Linked DNA regions of Homo sapiens. The main gene of each other region encodes a partner of the protein of the gene in region 2 in a complex. Each region holds a gene or a part of one and is shown on either strand. Other genes may lie near its edges. The genes, in order: GEMIN2 and STRAP.

Evidence for each region.
Region 1: STRAP (region 2) and GEMIN2 share a complex: the UniProt entries of both Homo sapiens proteins name them as parts of the SMN-Sm complex.

The regions. Positions count from the first base shown.
Region 1 is NC_000014.9:39,131,307-39,135,230, forward strand, and holds part of GEMIN2 (gem-associated protein 2), read left to right. Parts: intron 1-651; coding exon 652-762; intron 763-2,354; coding exon 2,355-2,413; intron 2,414-3,924. UniProt on the Homo sapiens protein: The SMN complex catalyzes the assembly of small nuclear ribonucleoproteins (snRNPs), the building blocks of the spliceosome, and thereby plays an important role in the splicing of cellular pre-mRNAs.
Region 2 is NC_000012.12:15,899,194-15,903,117, forward strand, and holds part of STRAP (serine-threonine kinase receptor-associated protein), read left to right. Parts: intron 1-710; coding exon 711-860; intron 861-1,753; coding exon 1,754-1,819; intron 1,820-3,723; coding exon 3,724-3,785; 3' UTR 3,786-3,924. UniProt on the Homo sapiens protein: The SMN complex catalyzes the assembly of small nuclear ribonucleoproteins (snRNPs), the building blocks of the spliceosome, and thereby plays an important role in the splicing of cellular pre-mRNAs.

The DNA.
Region 1 (3,924 bases), on a different chromosome or scaffold from region 2:
GAAAGTTGTACATACGAATAGGAAAAACAAGAACATTTTTAAAGTGAATCAAAGTTTGATCTGGAATGTTGGGACTGCAGGTTTTTTCTTGTGCTTGTGGTATTCTTCACAGTTTTTCTGCATCAAATATGTATTCATTTTGTAGCTGAAAACCCCATTTTAAAAGGGAGTGGGGATACATTGAGCCTGTCAAAGTATTTATAAAAGTGTCAAAAGATTATTTCATCTGTAGTATAGTTTCTTTGTATGTCCCCAGAGGACAAAATTATACAATTATAAAATGATTTCTATATCTGTCCATACAGAACAAAGAAAAAAATGTATCTTAATTTTTTCCAGTATTTATATTCATCTTAATGTAGTGTTCTGCTTACAAATGAGAACTTCCTATCATAAGAATATCTGAAACAAACTCTTTGGAGATCAGGGAATATTTTGAGGTATCCAATGTCCTGTGTCTGTAATTATAGGATACAAGAGATAACACCTGGCTCTCCAAATGAGGCTTTCTTGTCTATACCCAAACATAATATAGTTAAATGTTCTATGAATTTATTCATAGCAGATAATCAGGCATAACATTGGACATTTAAAAAATAAACTTCTGGTTCAGTATTTGTCTAAATATTAATTTTTTGAATTTTTTTTTAGGGAAGATGGCTTTATGCTTTATTGGCTTGTCTTGAAAAGCCTTTGTTACCTGAGGCTCATTCACTGATTCGGCAGCTTGCAAGAAGGTGCTCTGAAGTGAGGCTCTTAGTGGTAAGTTGCAACTTACTGTTTAAAATTAAAAGCACCCACCAATTTATATGGTGGTAAAGAAGGAGTTCAGTGAAATAGGAAAACACATGGAATATTTTATTGGTGGCAATTAGATTTGTAAAGCCCAAAATAATAGTAGCTTAAATAATATGGAAATGTTTTCTGAGATAAAGAAGTCTGAGCCGGGCGTGGTGGCTCACACCTATAATCCCAGCACTTTGGGAGGCTGAGGCGGGTGGCTCACCTGAGGTCAGGAGTTTGAGACCAACCTGGCCCACATGGTGAAACCCCGTCTCTACTAAAAATACAAAATTTAGCTGGGTGTGGTGGTGGGTGCTTGTCATCCCAGCTACTCAGGAGGCTGAGGCAGGAGAATCGTTCGAACCCAGGAGGCGGAGGTTGCAGTGAGCTGAGATTGCACCACTGCACTCCTGCCTGGGCAACAGAGCAAGACTCTGTCTCAAAAAAGAAGTAGGTAAAAAAATTAGATTTTTACTAAGATGGCAGTAACCCACCCACACCTTTGAGTTTTGTCATATGTGGCTTTCATCCTCATGCTCATCTTATGATCCAAGATGGCTGCTGTAGCTTCAGCCTTTTTTTTTTTTTTTTTTTTTTCTTTTATTGTGAGATGGAGTCTCGCTCTGTCACCGAGGCTGGAGTGCAATGGTGCGGTCTCGGCTCACTGCAACCTCCGCTTCCCAGGTTCAAGCAATTCTCCTGCCTTAGCCTCCAGAGTAGCTGAGATTACAGGTGCCCGCCACCATGCCTGGCTAATTTTTGTATTTTTAGTAGAGACAGGGTTTCACCATGTTGGCCAGACTGGTCTCAAACTGCTGACTTCAAGTGATCCACCTGCCTCAGCCTCCCAAAGTGCTGGGATTACAGGCATGAGCTACTGCACCTGGTGTGTGTGTGTGTGTGTGTGTGTGTATATATATGTGTGTGTGTGTGTGTGTATATATATATATCTTTATATATATATCTTTATATAATTCAGTAATGAATATATATAAGAACAGTAAGAATCCTGTGTCTTGACTGTACAGTGATTAATATATATTATATATATTCATATATATTCTATATATATCCTCACATATATTGTATGCATTATATAGAGGAACAATAAGAATCCTGTGTCTTGACTACAGTGATAAATATATTTATTCATATATGTATATTAATATATATTTATTATATATGAATACATATTCACTACAGTTAAGACACATATATAATATATATGAATATATATATATATATTCATCACTGTACAGTTAAGACACAGGATTCTTATTGTTCCTTTAGTAGGAACCAGGGAAAAATTTCCCCCAAGTTATCCCCCTTAGATCCCTCTTTATTTTTTTTTCCCTATTCAGAATCTTTATTTAAAAGATAGTCTTAGATGTTTCTCAAGGAATCATTAACTCTACAGTTCTCTGCTTTTTCTTTGAGGGCTCCTATTTCCACATGATGATTACTGTCATATAATAAAGTTTTCATGTTTCGTGTTTTACATCTTAATAGAAAATTTATTTCAAAAGTAATAGGAACAGACAATATTTAAATTTTTCTTTTTTTTTTTTTAGGATAGCAAAGATGATGAGAGGGTTCCTGCTTTGAATTTATTAATCTGCTTGGTTAGCAGGTATAGTTAATCCTTGGCTTCTTTATTATTTATCAGTGAGGTCAGTGAGGTTAGATCGTATTTATTACATTTGGTTTTTGTTTGGTTGGTTTTTTTTTGAGTCTCACTCTGTTGCTATAGTTAGGGTGCAGTGGCGCAATCACAGCTCACTAGAGCTTTAACTTCCTGGGCTCCAGCAATCCTCCCACCTCAGCCTCCTGAGTAGCTAGGACCACAACCAAGCACCACCACACCTGGCTAATTAAAAAAAATTGTTCGTAGAGACAGGGTCTCACTATGTTGCCCAGGCTGGTCTCAAAACTCCTGGGCTCAAGCGATCCTCCCACCTAAGCCTCCGAAAGTGCAGGGATTACAGGTGTAAAGCCACTGCATTCAGCCTGCATTTTTGTTTAATTGCCTGTGTCCTGCGTTCATTTTCAGTTGTGGCATATTTTTATTTAGTATCTGTTTTATTTCATTTCTTACATAGAAATTCTTCTTGGAATTTATTTGAAAACTTTTTTTGTTGTTTTGTTTTGAGACAGAGTCTCGCTCTGTTGCCCAGGCTGGAGTGCAATGGCACCATCTCGGCTCACTACAACCTTCACCTCCTGGGTTCAAGCAATTCTCCCCCCTCAGCCTCCCAAGTAGCTGGGCTTACAGGCACCTGCCATCATGCCCGGCTAATTTTTGTAATTTTGTGGAGACGGAGTTTCACCATTATTGGCCAGGCAGTAAAACACACATATTTATTTTAGGTCTCCTCCTGGACATATTTTTGTTCCATAGATCAGTGTTTTTATTTCATTGCCAGTACCTTTTTAAAGCTTTATAATATACTTAAATATTGGGAAGGCAAGTAATCTTGTTTCCATATTTTCACATATTCAATATCTAGTTTCTTGATCTACAATAATTATGCTGCTGATGATAATTAACATTTACTGGGCAATTTGTGCCAAGCATTTTTCTTAGTGAGGAACCCATTTAATCCTTCTAAGGTGGGTACTGTTAACAGTTTACAGATGAGGAAACCATGGCAGAGAGAGGTTAAATAATATTACTACCATCACAAAGCTAGTAAGTGTTAGAGTAATGATCCAAACCCAGGCAACTTTGACTCCGGAGCTAAACTTTTAACTATGCTGATCAAAAATTAAGCTAATACCTACCTCATCTGTTGGTAGTAGCAGTTAAATGAGATGATATAGCATTGCCCTACTTACTTTATGTATAGTATCTCTACTCTTTACAATAGATCAGAGTTGTGTTTTTGTTTTTGTTTTTGTTTTAATAAATTTTTTCCTTTCAGCTCTGTTGGACTTGATTTTTTTCCTTTTACAGATAATGACACAGATTCAGAAAGGTTAAGTAATTGGTAGCTCAGCAAACCAGTAATTAATGAAACCTCAGACAAGTATAGTTTCTGACTGCCTCAGTTGAGATTTTACAGTATTATGCAATTATGAAAGCAAAAACATTCAAGTGTATTTTTTGCCCTCAAAAAGTTAGATAAAAATGGAAAAAGTTCT
Region 2 (3,924 bases):
CAACTTTTCTATTCTCTGGTGGGACACAGATGGGAGACAGAATAGGAACATTGGTCTAGTAAAGGGCTTTGAGAACTAATAAGGTGATGAGGCATTAGAAAGTAAATGAGAAAGGTTCATACTTAAAGGTACTACTTGAATATAACAGTGCTCCTAATCTATACATTTTCTCATTAGGTTCCATGGATTAAAATATTTATGGATCATTGTTGATCTATATCTCACCTTTCTGTGTGACAGAATAATTAGTGGACTGTAGGAAATTAAGAGGCAAAGTGTGTAAAAGAGCTCCACCTGGTGGCTCTCTATAGTCATAATAAAAATTGATTCCCTGAGAAATAGGCAGTGAGTTTTAGGATATGGAAATTGGAGGTTGAACTGGTAAGACTTTAAATCTACTTTCTATAGAATTAATGGGGTTTTCATTTACCTCTTTTTCTCCATCCTTAATGAGACATGAAGCCTCATTTGCTTTTTTTAGAGGGACAGTTTGAAACTAGAATGTGTGCTAGATTTGGAAAGGAATAATCTTACAGAGAAAGGGTCAATGATATACCACTTTTGTGATGAGAAATTAATTAAGTACAGGTTTTAATGTTTGCCTTAAGAATTTTCCATCTCCCCAGTAACACAGACAGTATTTTTTTTTTTTAGCATATCAATATTTAACCTAATAGTTAAAATTATCTAATAGCCCTCTTCTTTTTCAGAATCCTACAAGGGACACTTTGGTCCTATTCACTGTGTGAGATTTAGTCCTGATGGAGAACTCTATGCCAGTGGTTCAGAAGATGGAACATTGAGACTATGGCAAACTGTGGTAGGAAAAACGTATGGCCTTTGGAAATGTGTGCTTCCTGGTAAGAATTTTTATTCAGAATAATAAAATTTTTAAAATGCATGATTTTATGTCATTTTTAATCATTAATTTTATTTCAGGGTTCCTGTTTTCTATAAATTTTAAATTATATATTATGGTTTAAGCAGCGAGAAGCCCAGGATTATAAATTGGCCAGAGAAAGGGTCATGTTCCTTTGTTTAAATTTTTTTTGGTATGGCTGGGCACGGTGGCTCACGCCTGTAATCCCAGCACTTTGGGAGGCTGAGGCGGGCGGATCACAGGGTCAGGAGTTCGAGACCAGCCTGGCCAACATGGTGAAACCCCATCTCTACTAAAAATACAAAAATTAGCCAGGTGTGGTGGTACATGCCTGTAATCCCAGCTACTCAGGAGGCTGAGGCACGAGAATTGCATGAACCCAGGAGCCATGCATTGAGCTGAGATCACGCCACTGCACTCCAGCCTGGGCAAGAGTGACTCAGTCTCAAAAAAAAAAAAAAGAAAAATTTGTTGTACAATCTAGTCTGTTCCTAAATTTTTATACTAGCACATTTTGTGGCTGGAATAGATCTAATTCAAAATTTGCTGGAAGGCAATATAAAGAATTTACAAGTAAATGTATCTAATCTCTGAATAGTATTACTCACTGATCCACACCAATAAAGATAGACATGTTCTTAATAAAAAATACCTAGTTACTAATCCCTAAGTAGTTGCAGTATGAACCTAAAAGTAATTTTAAAGAAAGACATACTATTTTTAGAATCACAGTTATTTAAAAAGGAGTTGTTTTTATTATATTTTGTAGCCATTTTCCTGGAATAGTCTTATGTTGCTCTTCTTGCTTATTGAACACTGGAAATTACTTTAATAGTGTAAGTCATATAATCGTCATTGCTTTTCTTTTTACAGAAGAAGATAGTGGTGAGCTGGCAAAGCCAAAGATTGGTTTTCCAGAGACAACAGAAGAGGAGCTAGGTAAATGCTATGGAATTGACTTTTGTAAGAGTCTTGGGGGATTTAAAATTGAACTGTAACAGAAGTTTTACTCATTGGCAGAAGAAATTTATTAAATATGAACATATTTAAATAATGGAAACTTTAAATATTTATGCATGTATATATACATATTTATAAGCTAAATATTTAAATACCTACTGCATAGTAGTAATAGGCACAGAGATGTAGTATGGACACAACCGATGTGGTTACTCTTTCAGAGCTAGAGTCTAACTTAGGAGACATGCCAAAACACAAATTATTGTAAGGGGGATTAAAAAAAGCTTCCTAGAGAAGTGACATTTAAACTGGGAACTAAGGATGAGCAGAAATGATTTAGGTGAGGTCATGAGAGGGGGTGTTGGTAGGGACAGGATGGAAAAGTTCATAGCAGGAAAACTATGTTAACTAAAAGTTCAGAACCAAAAAGGAGCATAGCATATGAGGAACTAAAAGAACTTCTCCATGCCTCCAGGTTAAAGAGCAAAGGCAAAGTGAAGCTGGAGAAGCTAGATCATCTGAGGGCCTCATTTGCTGTATTAGGACTTGGAGAGTTTTATACTAAGAGCAATGAGAAACCTTTGAATTTTAAGAAGAGGACTTTAAAAGATTGCCTTGGTAGTTCAAGACCAACCTGGCCAACATGGTGAAACCCTGTCTCTACTAAAAATACAAAAATTAGCCGGTCATGGTGGCAGATACCTGTAATCCCAGCTATTTAGGAGGCTGAAGCAGGAGAGTAGCTTGAACCCAGGAGGTAGAGGTTGCAGCGAGCCGAGATTGCGCCACTGCACTCCAGCTTGGGTGTCAGAGAGAGACTCTGTCTCAAAAAAAAAAAAAAAAAAAAGGTTGCCTTGGCTGTTGCACGTACAAAGAATTGGACTGGGAACAAGAGTGAACATAAACCAGTTAGGGGGCATTGTAGTCTAGATGAGTGATCATGTAGGTTTTGTTTTGTTTTGAGATGGAGTCTTGCTCTGTTGCCCAGGCTGGAGTGCAGTGGCATGATCTCGACTCACTGCAGCCTCCGCCTCTGGTTTCAAGCAATTCTCCTGCGTAAGCCTCCTGGGTAGTTGGGATTACAGGTGCACCACCACGCCTGGCTAATTTTTGTATTTTTAGTAGAGATGGGGTTTCACCATGTTGATCAGGCTGGTCTTGAACTCCTGACCTCATGATCTGCCCACCTCGGCCTCCCAAAGTGCTGGGATTACAGGCGTGAGCCACTGCACCCGGCCTATCATGTAGTTTTTAATAAGGGTATTGCAATGAGAACAGAAAAAGGTAGATGGAGTTGAGAGTCTTTTGTTAGACTTGTTAGAATTGTGAGATTGATGAGTGGGGGTATCATGAGGAAGAAATATGCAGATTGCTGCCATGAGAAACTGGGTATGATGATTTTGGGGGAGGTTGGGAAGGTGTTTACCATTTACCCAATAGAGTTTTCCTTAAATTTTTTATTGTTAAGCACCTTCTTGCTAAAACAATGTTGATGGTTAATGTTTTGCTTTAAATAGCACTAAATATTAGGATTTGAATCACTAAAAGAGAGGGCCAGATCCTTCGAAGACATGACTTTAATTCCGGGTTTGTTATATAGCTGGAGTCTTTGAAAATTTAGGCCAGAAAGGGACCCTTGGAGGTTGAGTTATGGTGTAAGAGAATCTAGTGGATAAAACACATGAACTCTTTCTTCTTTGCCTTTTCAATGACATGAGTCTAGTTGTTAGTGGCATGTGCAGTTGCTCTCTTCTTTCCCTTACCACAGTATGCTTTACAAACACTTTTTCATTCCTTCATTACACAGAAATGTAGATTTGCTTCTTTCTTTCATTAAGTTGACTAATGTGACTTTTTTTTTTTTTTTTTTTTTTTACTTATAGAAGAAATTGCTTCAGAGAATTCAGATTGCATCTTTCCTTCAGCTCCTGATGTTAAGGCCTGAGCGTCAATCATATGTGCAGTTAGTATACAACTGACTAAAACAAGCAAGCAGAGAAAAGCATCAGCCTTCCAGAGTTACTGTCTGCTTAAGGCAGAAACAGCAGTAAATAATGAGGAAAATGAATTAGCTCCAGTGCTGG